Regions from separate parts of the Homo sapiens genome. Here regions 1 and 3 are each linked to region 2. Evidence: fine-mapped expression QTL. A gene starts in region 2. Each other region holds a variant in brackets. All regions are shown on one strand. Distances are from middle to middle.

Region 1 (5,232 bases), 540 kb after region 2:
CTCCCTCCTACCCCACCCCTATCTCCTGCTATACCTGTGAAAAATAATTTGTTAAGCTTTGCTTTTTAGTTTTAAAATTTTTAAATAGAGACAGGGTCATCTTGCTCTGGTGCCCAGGCTGCAGTGCAGTGGTGCAATCATAGCTCCCTGCAACCTAGAGCTCCTAGACTCAAGTGATCCTCCTACCTCAGCTAGGACTACAGGCATGCACCACCACACCGGGCTAATTTTTTAAAATTATTGTTTGTAGAGACAGGGTATTGCTATGTTGCACAGGCTGCTATTTTTTATTTTTAATGAAAAATTATTAATTAGATATATTTATGGGGTACAGTGTAATTTTCAATATATGTATGTACTGTAGAATAATCAAATAAGCATAATTAACACATTAGTCATCTGAAATACTATCATTTTTTTGTGATGAGAACATTTAAAATCCACTCTTTTAGCTTTTTGGAAATATACATTATTATTAACCATAGTTGCCATCTGTCCAATAGAACACCAGAAGTCATTCCTCCCATCTAACTAAAACTTCGTACATTTTCACCAGTGTCTTTCCTTTCTCCATTGACTCTCCTTTTCCCCTTCCTCCCGTCAGCCTCTGGTAATCACTGTTCTACTCTCAATCTCTGAAAGTTTGATTTTTTACACCCCACACATAAGTGAGATTCTGTGATATTTGTCTTTCTGTCCCTGGCTTATTTCACTTAATGTAAGGTTCATCCATGTTGTCACAAATGACAGAATTTCCTTTAAAAACAGAATGCTATTATCATGGTGGCCAAACAATAAGAAAATTAATATTCTTCCTCTTTGTCTTTAGAAATTAGAAACAGTCTAATGCAGTTCTGAAATCCTACAGCCTCCAAAACCAGGAAATTTCGTTGATAGTGTATTTCCTGATGTCTGCTATTGGAAGCATAATGATCATTCTCTCAGGAATCCCTCGGTCAGAGTTGCAACTGATTATATGAATCAATAAATGCTTCTTGACCTGTGGTCAGTGTAAAAGCAAGGTTCTAGGGATATAAGGTTGTCTGCCCAGAATGGAGCTGTAAGCATGGATACAGAAGATCCTGGAACAACAGGCAGGTGAAGGAGAAAGAAGCTACTGAGAGTTACAAAGCATGCAGTAGAGTGGGATTTATGGACTGGCAGGGAACTTTAAAATAAAAGGTTATGCTTGACTTGGCTGTCACCTTTAAGGAAAGAAAATTAGGTTTTTCAAAAAATATTATGCAAATTAAAAAATGACCTAACCAGCCTTTATGGATAAATCTATACTATTGTTCTAAGTCAGGTTCTGATGTGCTGGTATACAGATAAAATACAGATCAATTTACTCGTTGAATGATTGGCGACCATACTAATTGGGATTCATAACTGTCACCCACCATTTATGCTATTTGAGAGCAATTCTGCACGTAGGTAATTATAGTAGATTGCCCCTGTGCCAAGAAGACATTGCATAAATCCTTCAGCTGAGATACGACTGACAAGCTGTGAGTAATAGAGTGCACCTTGGAAAAGATTTATATTTGAGGCCCAGTTAGCTGGAGTGCTTTATACTTTTCATTTCTCAATAACTTGACTGGAACTAAGACAGTCAGTTATTTCCCAAATTCTCCGTTTTCATGATAGGATAATCAATAAAGAGCAACTATTAATTCAGTGTCGCTCTGATATACTAGACTAGACAGTTTTACTATGTTATTGATTACTTCTGTAATTTACCACTGGGGGTAGACACTCTGAAGGTCATTAGACATAGGTTGCTTCTTAGTGATGCAAGTTCACTTGTGGTAAGCAGAGGTTTTGTTGCCATGATCAGCTGGACTCTTTGATTCCCTATGATGCATGGAGCAAAGAATAGCACAATTTCATCAATCATACATCACATTGCATAGCCTACAATCAAAGGGCAAGGTGGTGAGGTGGCTCTTTCTGTGCAGATGGAGTTCTCAGAATGAAGCCCCAGAAGGGCTACTTGCCCCTATCCTCTCATATCATAGGACTTTGGGTAGCCCCCAGCTGTTTCCCTGCACCTACTCTCTCGGAGAGGTTTTCCATTACCATCAGGCATCATTCAAGGAGTTCTCAAGAAATAAAGTAATCTATGTGATACAAGTTTCAAATATAGTCCTCAAAGACATCCTGGACAACTGTTCTTTCCAAACTCCCATGATTTATCATAGGATATTTCAGCCAAGACATCTTCTGATTTCTAAAAAGAAATATCTGTCAGCAGAATTTGTGCACTTTGTAAATTATCTGCTTTCCCCCAATAACATGTTGCT[G/A]TGTTAGCATTAACTTGCTGACCCTACGCTTTCTCCCCAAGATTTGAGATGTTGGAATAATTAGCAAACCCTTCATCTTTATTTTTTTTTTTTATCTAGGCCATGCTTCACCCTGCAAGACTCTCTCCTTTATCCCATTCCATAAATATCTACCACACATATTCTATGTGGCTTTCCTTGCATAGAATGTCAGGAAACACTGTCTATACCCTTGTTTTAATAAGTTGTTGTCCTTTCAAACCTTTGCACTTATATCACAGATCGGATCTACTGATTCCTTTTGAATTCCTCAATAGGTACCTCCCTGCCAATCACCTAAGCACCTAAAGCCCAACTATCCCACTTTCTTAGAGATACTCCTCTTAATTTAGATACCTAGTCCTAAGCTTCTAAGCCTCTAATATATAGTAGACCTTTTGCTATATGTTAGACCCTTTGCTATGTATTTTGTAAGATTGGAGGGGTCTGATTTGTTGAGGAGAGGGGAATAAACAAATCAGACTCCTCCAATCCTACAAAATGCTACCTTTCATTATATGCAACAATAGCATTTTTAGGAAGTGATGTGTTTGTAATATTTTGTTATATTTGACCTTGCCATTTTTAACATGCCTTTATAAAAATAATTTCTTATGTGGATTGGTTTTTCAAATGGACCTTGATAACTCCAAACATTTTATTTTAAACTTTAGTATAGTGTTTGGTTCATATCTACTAGGAATAAATTAATTAGTGCCACAGATGGACCACCAAAATTTGAGACTTTTTGGGATATTTTTTGTACCTTTTTTTTAAAGAATATGAAAGTTATTTATGAGAAAAAAATAAAGATGTAAACACACACACACACACACACACACACACCACACACACTCACAAAGGCCACCTATAACCATATTAATGACATATCTATGTTAACAAAACCATTGTGTGAGGTTAGAGGCAGAAGGGGTGCATGGTCAAAGCCACAGTTAAAAGAGCAACAGAAGGAGAAAATATAGTCCTGGAAGACTAGAATTAAGTCATTCAGAAAAAACTAATACAATGTTTTTATTTATTTATTTATTTTTTAGACAGAGTCTTGCTCTCTTGCCCAGGCTGGAGTGTAGTGGCGTGATCTCAGCTCACTACAAGCTCCGCCTCCTGGGTTCAAGTGATTCTGCTGCCTCAGCCTCCCGAGTAGCTGGGACTACAGGCGCGTGCCACCACGTCCAGCTAATTTTTTGTATTTTTAGTAGAGACAGGGTTTCACCACGTTAACCAGGATGGTCTCAATCTCCTGACCTCGCGATCCACCCTCCTCAGCCTCCCAAAGTGCTGGGATTACAGGCGTGAGCCACCGGGCATGCCCACAAGATTTTTTAAACAATTCATAAGCATATGTTTTTATAGGTCCATTTAGATATACCTAGATTCTCTATGTAATTGAAATAAACACATTTTTATAGACCATAGACCATTATCTTTTTATGAAAAAAGATAAATTGTCTGGAAAGACAACTTTCCAGATAAGCTGTCTGGAAAGACAACTTTCCAGATAAGCTGTCTGGAAAGACAACTTATTTGGTTTAAGTATTAGAAATCTTTGTACTTATAAATATATGCAACCAGATGTTACAGTTGATAAAGATGCATGAAAAATGGCCAAACATAATATTTAAGGATTTTACTAAGGAAGGTTTAAGGGATATAAATTTCATTTCTCTTCCATTAATATATACTATTTATATTATAAACTTTTTTAAAAAAAATGAGATGAGTTTAACTTACATTTTCACTTCTGTGCCTTCTAGAAAATAGAATCATATGGAGAAGTCAAAACTTTGTCACAGAATTAATGTATGCCCCAGGTTACCTGCATTATTCATAGTAAGGTTAATCTTTGGGATAATTATTGTCCCACTTAACAAACATTCACAGTGGTAAATTACATAGCACCCTAAAGCTACAGAAATACAGGACAATTAATGAAATGCAAAGGTATCTGATCTGATTCTAGTGCTGACCTCTTAAAAGTAAAATCATTGCTATTATTCCTGTTAAGAGAATTTTCACTTCATGGAATGGGCCTGTGCCTCCAAGAATAACATGGAGCTGTTCTCAAGTTGTTTCACTTTTTTTGAAAGTTAACCTTTTGATATCATGGATAAAAGTTAACATTTGTAAAACTCAAGCTGTTAGCCCAAATGCAACCTTGCCTCCTATGTTAGTACATTACGTCAATGACAAATGAGCCATAAGTTTCAACTTTACAGTAGTAGTAGATACCTTGACCTTTGAGACCTCACTCAAGTCATACCATGGGTGTTCTGATATTTTGGTGGTGTTTGCAGTCATGTGCAAAGAAAAGGCTATGTTTTAAGTTGTATAGGTCTTAATCAGTACAGATTTCTGTTCCTATTCAAATATAAACTTTATAAAAATTTTCAGAAGTTATTCAGCAAAAGAATTAAGAATTCAAATGATGCCGTTTTTAATGAAATTATAAAATTGAAGGAGATCTGCAGATGTCTCCTGAATCCTTGGAAATACGACCAAGTCATAGTGCAGTCATTAATGGATTTTGCATGGGTAAGTTTCAAGTCTGAAACTTTTCCTTTGTTAAGAAGTCCAGTTAATCAATTGCATTAAATTAAAAGATGAATGAGCTCTAGAGATCTGCTGAATAGCATTGTGCCCATCGTTAACAATACTATATTGTGCATTTAAAATTTTGTTAGGAGGGTAGATAATATGTTAAGTGTTCTTACTATAATTTTATAAAAGGTAAATAAATAAATGAAAATAATATACTGCCAATGGAATTTGAAATAAAAATTTAAAAAGAGTATTGATAGATTTTATATTATGTCCAAGGAAAACTATTTTAAGTGGACTTAAATTTGGGAAAGGAAAGGAAGAATGATACAAAGACATACTGTAAGTATTT
Region 2 (5,232 bases):
TACTACACACAAGATGAATACTACAGCTAGGATTCCAGCCATTAGCTGACCTTTTTGTCTAAACCAGATGCCTGCTCCTCCATATGACCTCTCTCCTGTCTGGTCAGGCCTCTTCCAGGAACTTCCATAACATTCCATTCTCATTCCAATCCCTTGTCTAGGCTCCTGCTGTGGCTCTCAGTGTTAACTGGAATGTTTGACTTTGTCTCTTACACCACTGCAAACAGTGTGACATTACTCAACAAATGGACCAGGCAGGGTTAAGGTCACCAGTAAAGCAAGTTATCTAATTCTTTGGTCTGACTTGAGTTCACAAACCTACCCTAAACTATTTGACTCTCCTGATGGAATTAAACTAATCTATTTAGTCATTCGTCTCATGTAATATCTTTGCCACAAATCCTAAGATCATTTTATAAGTATAGGGACGGTGTGCAATAGTCTAGTGCTATAAAGTTGTATTGAGTGCTCATTCAATACTTAACAATTAGCTGATCTTCAAATAATTTAAAACCACATATACTATGCTTTTACCCATTCTTCCTTTACCTCCATTTAAAATAATGAATTATCTGCTATACTGAGTCAGGGTAAATTACAATGAGTCCCAGGATAAGGTGGTAGGACAGGAAGTGTGTGTTTTTACCCTCTTCCTCTGGAGTGCATAATGCTTTACTATGATACAAAGAGAAGTTTGAAGGAAGTCACGTTGTCAAATATGACAGAAGTAATAACTTGACTGCAATTCCTGAGCCTATCAACCTCACCGTTTGTCCACAAACATAACCAGAATATATTTTATCTTGATTTCCGACTTGAGGGAAAATAAGTTCAGTGATTTAAGATCTGCCAGTTAGCATAAATATTGTGAAAGCAAAAAACTGTGCTAAAATTTTAAGAGAAAAAAAGTTAAGTGTGTTGCGTTTTCAGAAAGATTTAGCTATGGAGTTTTTTTTTTTGTTTTGTTTTGTTTTTTTTTTTTTTGGTTTTGTTTTGTCTTGACCTATGAGTTTGAAGAAGACAAAGTGGCTCTGTAAATAAGTCGACTTCATTTTTAAAGCGTTTGGAAAGGTTAAATGAGGTTGAATCTTGAGAGTCTTTTTGGTGGTTAGGAGAGGGGGAATTTATTAAAGAGAGGAAGACAATGTACCTAATATGTTGTGATGATAATGACAAACTCAAAGATTTAAACTTCATGAGTCATTCTGGTCATTCATATCATCATCAGGAAAACATCTTCATGTGTAGCTTCATAGGTGAGCTCCACAAAACTGTGCATTACCTTGTAGTAGTTTGTGAATAATGTGCTGACCTATGACACATAGCCACGTAAGTGAATAAACACTATTATTATTATTATTTTGTCTTGGTTTTCATTAAACTATCTTAGTAGTTTCAGGAGCTCTGGGTTTCAACACACACTTCTGCCAGCTGACTTTAGTGCGTCCATTAGCATAACAAAGTCAATTAGGCAAACCTGAATTTTCACTTTTATCCCGTTCACAGAACATCAGTGTAAATGGAGACAGGAAGAAGAAATTGGATTGATTCTCCACTTGAGAATTATGTTAACTTGGAAGAAAATGTTAAGTCTACTATGTGAGGGCATCTAGTGAGAGGGAAGGAATCACCTCCCTTCCCCCATTATGTCCCTTTATGCACCTCTGACCCTTGTGCTCTCCTTTTCTTGTTGCTTCTGTGGTCTGGTTGTTAGCTTTCCCGATCCTCCACACATTAGAAACCTAAGCATAATGATTTCTGATCGAAGGCTATGAGATATTTGAAATAAAAAAAGGGGAAATTGTTGAGTCTAGAACCAAACCTTTAAAAATTAAGAACTACCAGTCTGTAATGTGTGCCTTTAGAAAAAAACAAAGTCAAACAGAAATTAGGCAACTAGTTAGAGCCGTGATTGTGCTCTGCCACCCATGAACTCCCGTCTATGACTATTTCCACTCTGGCTTTGTGTTTCAGTAGGTCAGGGACACATATTAAGAGCAACAATTGGAACTGCGTTATCCTTTACCTCCATAAAAATACAGCTTAATAACATGTTAATGACTTAAAATTACCTTGTCTTTCTAGATTGTTTATTGATGTCATTTCAGATCGGTATAAAGGATGTGAAGTGAATAAGAAAATAGGTACGTTTCTTTTTCTTTTTTTCCCCTTTCTACCGACTAGGAAGAGATCCAGTCCAGGTTTTGCCTTTGACTCGGCCTGTGAATTTCGGCTGTGCAATGTGTAGCACGTTTCTTTCTCCCCCCTCCTTTCTCCTTCCCTCTTGCCTCCAGTGACTGTCTCCAGGATTTCTCTCTTCCTATTTCAGGAGGACTCTCACAGGCTCCCACAGCCTGTGTTAAGCTGAGGTTTCCCCTAGATCTCGTATATCCCCAACACATACCTCCACGCACACACATCCCCAAGAACCTCGAGCTCACACCAACAGACACACGCGCGCATACACACTCGCTCTCGCTTGTCCATCTCCCTCCCGGGGGAGCCGGCGCGCGCTCCCACCTTTGCCGCACACTCCGGCGAGCCGAGCCCGCAGCGCTCCAGGATTCTGCGGCTCGGAACTCGGATTGCAGCTCTGAACCCCCATGGTGGTTTTTTAAACACTTCTTTTCCTTCTCTTCCTCGTTTTGATTGCACCGTTTCCATCTGGGGGCTAGAGGAGCAAGGCAGCAGCCTTCCCAGCCAGCCCTTGTTGGCTTGCCATCGTCCATCTGGCTTATAAAAGTTTGCTGAGCGCAGTCCAGAGGGCTGCGCTGCTCGTCCCCTCGGCTGGCAGAAGGGGGTGACGCTGGGCAGCGGCGAGGAGCGCGCCGCTGCCTCTGGCGGGCTTTCGGCTTGAGGGGCAAGGTGAAGAGCGCACCGGCCGTGGGGTTTACCGAGCTGGATTTGTATGTTGCACCATGCCTTCTTGGATCGGGGCTGTGATTCTTCCCCTCTTGGGGCTGCTGCTCTCCCTCCCCGCCGGGGCGGATGTGAAGGCTCGGAGCTGCGGAGAGGTCCGCCAGGCGTACGGTGCCAAGGGATTCAGCCTGGCGGACATCCCCTACCAGGAGATCGCAGGTAAGCGCGGGCGCGCTGCAGGGGCAGGCTGCAGCCCTCGGCTGCCGCACGTCCCACTGGCCGCCCGGCGTCCCCTTCCTTCCCCCTGTTGCTGAGTTGGTGCTCACTTTCTGCCACCGCTATGGGACTCCGCGTCTCCGTGTTGGGCGGCGGATGCTCCTGCGGCTTCTTCGGCGGGGGAAGGTGTGCGTCTCCGCCGCCTCATTGTGTGCACACGCGGGAGCACCCTGGCTCCCGCCTCCCGCTGCTCTCGCGCCCTTCTACCCCTTAGTTGATGGCTCAGGCCCGGCTGGCCAGGGAGCCCGGGTCACTCCGGGGCGGCTGCAAGGCGCAGACGGAGAGCCGAGCCGGGCGCTCACTCCGCGTTCTGGTTCGGGCAAACTTGGAAGAACTGCGACCGCAGTTTGCCCAGCGCCACAGTCTGAGTGGCGCCTTCTCCACTCCCGCCCTTGCGCCGGCAGGGGCGGTGGAGAGACGCGGAGGGCTCCCCCAGCCCCTCTCTCCCCTATCCGTCCTTCGGGCGACAGAGCGCCCGGCGCTCGGGCCGGGGGCGGGCAAGGCTGGGAGGGACCCTCGCCGGGGACCTGGCCTCTGGACGCCGGCGTTTCAAGGCTGGTTTGGGGACTTCACGGGCTGCCTGTTTCAGATGTGGGGCGGGCTTTCCCGTTAGGGTTCCTCAGTGCTTCCCCAGTTGCTGTTGGCCACTCAGGGCCCGGGGACACCCTGCCACCCGGTCTGGAGCCGGCCTCGTCTGCCAGCGAACAGCCAACTTTAGCGGGTGGCTCAGCTGGGGATTCGGGTCCGGGTTCGGGGGCCCCGTGTCCCCCGCATGCCCGGCCACTGGCATTGCTCCACCAAGAGCTTGAGAGCGCCCACCCTTTCTCTCGGCGCCAGTGTGTGTAGCACTTGGTCTCCGACAACTTGCGCGGCAGTCTGGGTGCTTGTTTTCCGGCTCTTAGCTCCAACCGAATCCGAGCTTCTCTGGGGCTCTGTGAATGAAACGTGTCGGGGAGAGATAATCCTTTGGCTGCTAAAGAACAGAACTGAGAGAGGCCGAGGGAGGCCAGGAGATGCTGCGAGGGCGCGGGCTGCTCAAACCGGGCAGCTGAAGTCCTTAGTGACCTCAGATCGTCAAGTCAAAACGCTGAATTTCCACCAGCCTCTGTCTGCTTTTTGCCAAATAACTGGTGGATGGATGAAAAGCATTTTGCAGATATCTTAGAACATCACAGTTTCGATACGTTGAGGAATTACTATTTTCTTATGATTTTCAAGCTGTAGAAGTGAGGGTTTTTACTTACACTGAAATGAACACATTTAAATAAATTTGAGCATTGGCAAAGGGGGAAAAAAAGAGGCGCAAATTACCACGCTCATTATATAGAAGGAGCTTTTTCAGTTCAGAGCCAGACATTCCCTTTGCTGAGTCTAAGTTAGAATCTGTGGTGAATTATAAGCCTACTTTTCTATCCTTGTTACTTCTTCCTTCTTTTCCAGAACTCCTTAATTTGTTAATCAATGAATAGAGAGCGACTGTCCCCACAGCTCCTTAAGTTTCTTAACTCTCCTTCTCCTTTGTCTACTGTTATTTCATTCTTTTTAATTAATTGATAAGGATCAGCTTCGCTTTTTTTTTTCCCTCCCCAAATCTCAGGGAATTCAACTTTTTAAAAGGTTTATAGTATGGATCACTTCTTCTAGGAACTTTTTCTCCTTTAATCTGGGCTTTTTCAAACGGTATCTTTTAAGCACACAAGATATTTCCCAACATGATTTCAGATAAGATGTCTCAAAGAAGAAAATAGTTAGGTATTTTTAAATTGCTTCGGTATTCTTTAGAGGATAATGGGACTCTCAGGAGACTAGAGTTCATCCTCAGCATCAGGCACATCTCTTTAATATCAAAGTGAAGATTTTCAGTGTAAAACAATTTCTGTAGTCACCATGAATGTTTGTTGAGAACATTCCCAGGGGTTCATGTAAATTCTTCGGTGGATATTTAACTAAAGAGGTTTTTGTTTTTGTTTTTGGTTTCCTCCCCACCTTTTTACAATTACAGTGTTTGCTTATTAGCTATGAATTTCTAAAATGTGTGCACTTTTTTTTTTTTAAACTCACCTACTTTCCATGAGTAAGGGCATACTGTTAACTTTG
Region 3 (5,232 bases), 540 kb after region 2:
TTATGGGATTATTTTTTTCCTACTTAACAAAAGTGGGATTTAAACTCTAATTTCCAAAAACATAGTGGCTAGCTAAAATTGGTATTGATTTAATGTTCTGGGTCAATTTTAAGTGATAAATTAACATTAGCAAAAAAAGAAGTTTCTAAATTCTGTAAATCACATGGGATTTTTCATCGGCTCATTCCCTTACAATCTTTTTCTCAGGGATAAGGTTTTCTAAGTCAATATTTTCCCAAATGCATGCCCTTTTGTCTTCCATTAAATATGGTAGTCTTTGTTTCTTCAATGGCCATGTGAGAACAGAAGGAAAATTTCTTCTCAGAGAAGACAGAGCAAAGTAATATTCTTGCCAAAAGTTATCACAGTTTAATAGCAAGAAGGAATGTACACGTCTCTAAACAAAATGTGCAATGCTTTCTGATGCTGACACCATTTATTTAGTCTTATTAAATAGCTGGTAAAATGATCCAAGTTTCAGAGAAACACAAGCTGTGAGTGGCTGCTGCACGTGACAAAAAAAAAAAAAAAGACAGCCCCAAAAAGCAGCAGGGAGAAGATGTGCGCAGAGTCTGGGAGGATCACCTTTCTCCACAGCTTTCCCTTCCAAACCTCCAAACCCAGGCACTGCTTTCCTCTTGCACTCCTCTTCTCCTGATATCCATTCATTCACCTTATTTCTACACTCTTACCCCTTCCATATTTTTAATTAACTTTTCTCTTTGTGCTTGCACACTTGCTTTGCTTTGCTTTCAATCTATAGTTATTTTATGGGTGGCTTGGCACCTCAACCAGATGGGAATTAAGTGGAAGGCAGAAGTTGGCTTGCACACACAACCTCTAAATAAATGCAGGCCTGGGAAGGATGATTCATGCTTTACCTGTATTCTTTCAGCTGCAGTCAGTGTTTTTCCAATCTTGGTAGGCACCAGCATCACCTGGAAAATTGTTAAAGCAAAACATGCTTTGACTTGACTCCAGACATACTGGGGCTTAAATCTCTGTATTTATTTGCCAAGTAGTTCAAAATTTAGTAGTTGGGGGAATGGGATCACCAACCATTATGGTTTGCCAAGGAACGAAGGATTTCCTGAGCTGTGTGCTAAAGCCTGAATACTTCTGAGTAAATTGAGACATTTAGTTACCCTATTTAGGGTTGAAGATGAGGGCCAAAATAGTGCATGCATCTGTCTGCTTTCCATCTTTCCATCCTAATTATTCTAAAAAACCATACAACCCCCACTTTTATGGGTATAAAATAGTTATGTTACTTATCTATTTTTATTTTTGCATATTTTTTAGTTATTGCGTGGTTTATTACATATAATGAGAGCAACAATCTCATAACATTGGTTTTAGAATTAAATGAGATAAAATATGTAAAGCACTTAATGTAATGCCTGATACTAAGTGTTCAATGAATGTTACATATTATTTCTCTTTAGGTCCAAAGGTATTTATTTTCTTCTTGGCTTCCTGGAATACTAATCTTTGGTAAAGGAAGTTTCTCACTGGTCTCCTAAGCCGGCAGTGGTCTGAGGCATGCCACCATTTCTTTGAGCTGTGATGTGTTATATCATCTTCTTCCAAGACAGGCCCTCTTAGCTAGTGTGCTAACTGGACTTTCTCTCTCTGACTCAAAGGGGCTGTGCCTCAGAAGCTTTGTGGAGGTAGAAAGGCTTATCCACACTTCCCATGATAGGAGAGGGATTCTACCCACCTTCTTTCTGGATTCTTCTATGGACTGTAATGATTTCTTCCTCAGTAGTGTCTATTCCCAGACCCAGCAACTGCTTTTTGAAATTTGCTTGCAGACATCAACCCTGCAACTCTCTATCTAGTTCTCAGCACTTCAACTTAAGGCTAATATTAGACCAAGACCCACTTCCTCTAGAAATAAATCCTTTTCTCCCCCATACTTTCTTGGTCAAATAAGGTTACAGACTTATTTGGCACTTACTTAAGTAGTTTTTTTTTTCATCCTTAGGATGGTTCTCAATTTGTTGACTGATGAAATCATAAAACGTAACGTAACCCTCTAGGTAGCAGAGGATGTGCTTTGTAACATCATCCAGCACTCCTTGTTGCATTATCCTACAGTCTCAGTAATCTGCATTGTCTCACAGATCAAGCCATTTGCTCATTCAGTCTGTTCTGTGCCAAACATATTGATAACACATACACTGAAGGACTGCTGGCATTGCCCCTCCCCAGAATAAGCAAACAAGTCATCTTTAAAAGCAAGTTGTTTCAGCCACTTTGATAGAAATTAAGTTGCATACAAGGTCACAAAGTACATCAGTGAACTAACTGGAAACACAACCC[A/C]ACAAGGCCCACTCCCAAGCCTGAGCACTTTACTGGATCACGCTTCCTTCCTCGGTGAAAGGCTTCCCACGGCAGGAAGAACCGGAGAGCAAGCCTCTAAATTATACATGACTGTTTGTCTCATTTTCACTCCGTGGCTAATTGAAGACACAGGGGAGTGCTGCTTTTTTGGCTTCATCTCTCATCGCATCTCATTTGTCTCACACGTGTCGGGGAGTGCACTCTGCAGGTTAGCTTTATGAAGGGTTGAATGGAATTTGGTGAGCTTTGAGGAGTCCCAGGATTACAAGTTCTTTGTCTTGGTTCACAACAAGCTGTGCAGTCCCCTTTTGTTTGTTTCCTCATTTGCCATTTTAAAATAAAGTAAATACCTAATGCTAGATGACGAGTTAGTGGGTGCAGTGCACCAGCATGGCACATGTATACATATGTAACTAACCTGCACAATGTGCACATGTACCCTAAAACTTAAAGTATAATAATAATAAAAAAAGTCAAGCATAGGAGATCCACAGTTGATAGGAAAGGAATGTGAATCACTAAAGAGAAACCATCATAATATTTAAATGACCAAATAAGGAACATGAAAATGTTTCTTCTCCTATAAATTTTAAGCCTGTGGGGAATCAAACTTAGATTAGTTTTAATAACAAAAGTTCAGAGTTCATTGTACCTTGTTCTGCCTGCTGAAGATTAGCACTGTGGTGGGAGTGTATATCCAGGTTGCCAAAACCACAGTTCTGCTTGGTTCAGTGACTCACAAATTATAATTTTTGAAGCGTTTGGAAGAAGAATTTCCATATCATATCTGACAATATGCTTTTGGCCCATAGCCCTTAATGCATTACCTTTTATGTAGTATAGGCTCAGTGCACTTTTGAGAATTAAGCAACAAAAATAGTAATAAAATGTCACTGATGATAAAGAAAAGTAATGGCATCAACTAATATTAGATAACTGTAGGATGATTTATTGCTTCTGTATGCATTTTTTGTTCATATCTATGAAGATATCGGCATTGGTTAGGTTTACAGATGTCTGTGAGAAAACACATCACCCTCTGTCAGGAAGGGTCATTGACTATTAAATTGAACAATAGACCTAAGTGTGCTCACTTGGGTTTGCAACAGCTAAAGCCCTGTTGTCTCCTGCTTGGTCACTCCTACCTTGTATTAAATATGGATTTCATGCATTACATGGAGTTTTCAAGGATAGAAAGAAGGATTTCAGTGGGACAATCTAACTTTGGACATCTTGTGATGAGCAGAGAGGCATCATTGAGAGGAAGAGTTTTAAAAACAGGTGTACTTCAGAAATATTAAAAGGCGATATATACACAAGGAAGAGAAACAAGAAAAAAAGAAGTTTGGTTAGGAAAGTCCTATAATTTTTTACGTGGAAAGAAATCAAAGGCAAAGCAAATGGAAGGATGCTGTCCTGATAGAAGCTGGGGTGTGGAGGAAGAGTAATGAAATTCAGAATGTTGGTCCTGCACAGGGTCTTGCCAGACACATCCTTATCCTCGGTCCTCAGATGAAGAGCCCTGTCTCCTGGAGCCTGAGGGCCAAGTGCCCAGATGCACTATCATTCTAAGGAATTGTTCTGGTCAGAATCTGGAGTTTTCAACTCCCTTCTGTGGTCCATTTTTATTATGGATGCTGCTTTGAAGGATGGATAAAGTGCTAGGAAAAGTTGTTATCATCTAAAAAACCAGAATTCTTTCTACTCAAAGGTCTTGTTCTCTACCATGTTCCCGGTGGGACATTTTCTCTGTAGTTTTTTCCAATATATAGTAGGTTATGACAGGACACTGCTTATCCTCACAAGGAAGGCACTTCTGTTAAGAATTCAGCAAAAAGAAAAAAGAAAAACTAGGAGAGAATAAGAAATGGAGATTGTTTAAAGAAAAAGCAAAATGCCACTCTAGTTAGTAATACTGCCACTTAATGACAGAATTAGTAAAAGTCATGAATAAAGCCTGCATGATGGATTCACTTTTTCAGGAACTCTCTTTAATAATACAATGTTATATTCTGAGTAACAACTTTACGTATAAATTAAATAAGTTAACATGAAGGCATATATGTCATAATCTTAGAGATGGTTCATCAATAAGCATCTCAGAGACCCCATTGAGACATATCCTATTCTGGGCTCTGGAAATTGATGATGAAAAAGACAGGGAATGTCTATTCAGCTTCAGTATGCAGCTGATTTTTTTTTTGATGTAGCTTACGTACCCCAAAATCTTTCCAAGTAGATTTAAAATGGTCCATTCCTCATCCTTCTGCCTCACTCAGTCTTATGGTATGTGACTGTAGGGGTTCCTGTGTAGTTTTAAGTTGCTTCTCTGCAAAATTCCTTAGCTAATCAGTACTTGAGCCCATGGTTTTCTCACCTACGTTTCACGGGTTCAGTCTATGCCCTTTGATTTGGCAACTCCTTTTCAAAATATTATCTGTGATTTTCATAGCCATCAAACCGTTACCACTCCTGCCTCACCCACTAGGGTCTCTGCTGTTTAGACTTTAATAACAAGCATTGAGTCTTACAAGAGATTGCCATTGGCTATACTGGCATCAGATTCATCAAAAAGGAATGGGATGAAAGTACAACTTGCCAGCAGAGCAACTTAAAATCTTCTTTTAAGGGAGAGATTTTATAGCAGTACGTAGTGCCCAATAGACATCATTTTGCCATGCAGCAGACAGTTCAGGTGTAAGAAGACATGTTGAGATCAGACAGTCAGAAGAACTGCTTTGGCTTAGATGCCTCATGCCTCCAATGGAACCAATACTTCTGACAGATCCGTGGGCATAGCTGCCATTGTATATGACATGGGGCATGCCAGTTAGAAAAGTCACCACATTCAGGGACACTCAAAACTATGAAGACTGTTCCAGATAT

Alleles and levels. Alleles are on the strand shown, and positions count from the first base shown. SD is a standard deviation of normalised expression in the study named. Not every link is listed here.
As copies of A replace G in region 1, the expression in aorta of the gene that starts at base 2,269 in region 2 goes up (moderate effect, 0.72 SD a copy in GTEx).

Evidence for each region. PIP is the estimated chance that this variant, and not a neighbour inherited with it, causes the effect. A credible set is the group of variants that fine-mapping cannot tell apart.
Region 1: its variant is the best candidate, but not a certain one, in a credible set for the expression of GPC6 in aorta (GTEx, PIP 0.69).
Region 3: its variant is the best candidate, but not a certain one, in a credible set for the expression of GPC6 in atrial appendage (GTEx, PIP 0.82).

What each region holds. Positions count from the first base shown.
Region 1 is chr13:93,761,445-93,766,676 of GRCh38, forward strand. The region is part of intron 2 of GPC6 (glypican 6); the gene reads left to right. Among named protein-coding and RNA genes, the nearest start is that of GPC6-AS2, 94 kb to the right of the region's middle. The variant G/A (reference allele first, on the strand shown) is at 2,304.
Region 2 is chr13:93,224,539-93,229,770 of GRCh38, forward strand. GPC6 (glypican 6) reads left to right here and starts at 2,269. Exons shown (of 9, transcript NM_005708.5): 1 at 2,269-3,078. The coding sequence starts at 2,919. RefSeq lists enhancers at 1-455, 2,862-3,704 and a silencer at 3,758-4,052.
Region 3 is chr13:93,768,918-93,774,149 of GRCh38, forward strand. The region is part of intron 2 of GPC6 (glypican 6); the gene reads left to right. Among named protein-coding and RNA genes, the nearest start is that of GPC6-AS2, 87 kb to the right of the region's middle. The variant A/C (reference allele first, on the strand shown) is at 2,326.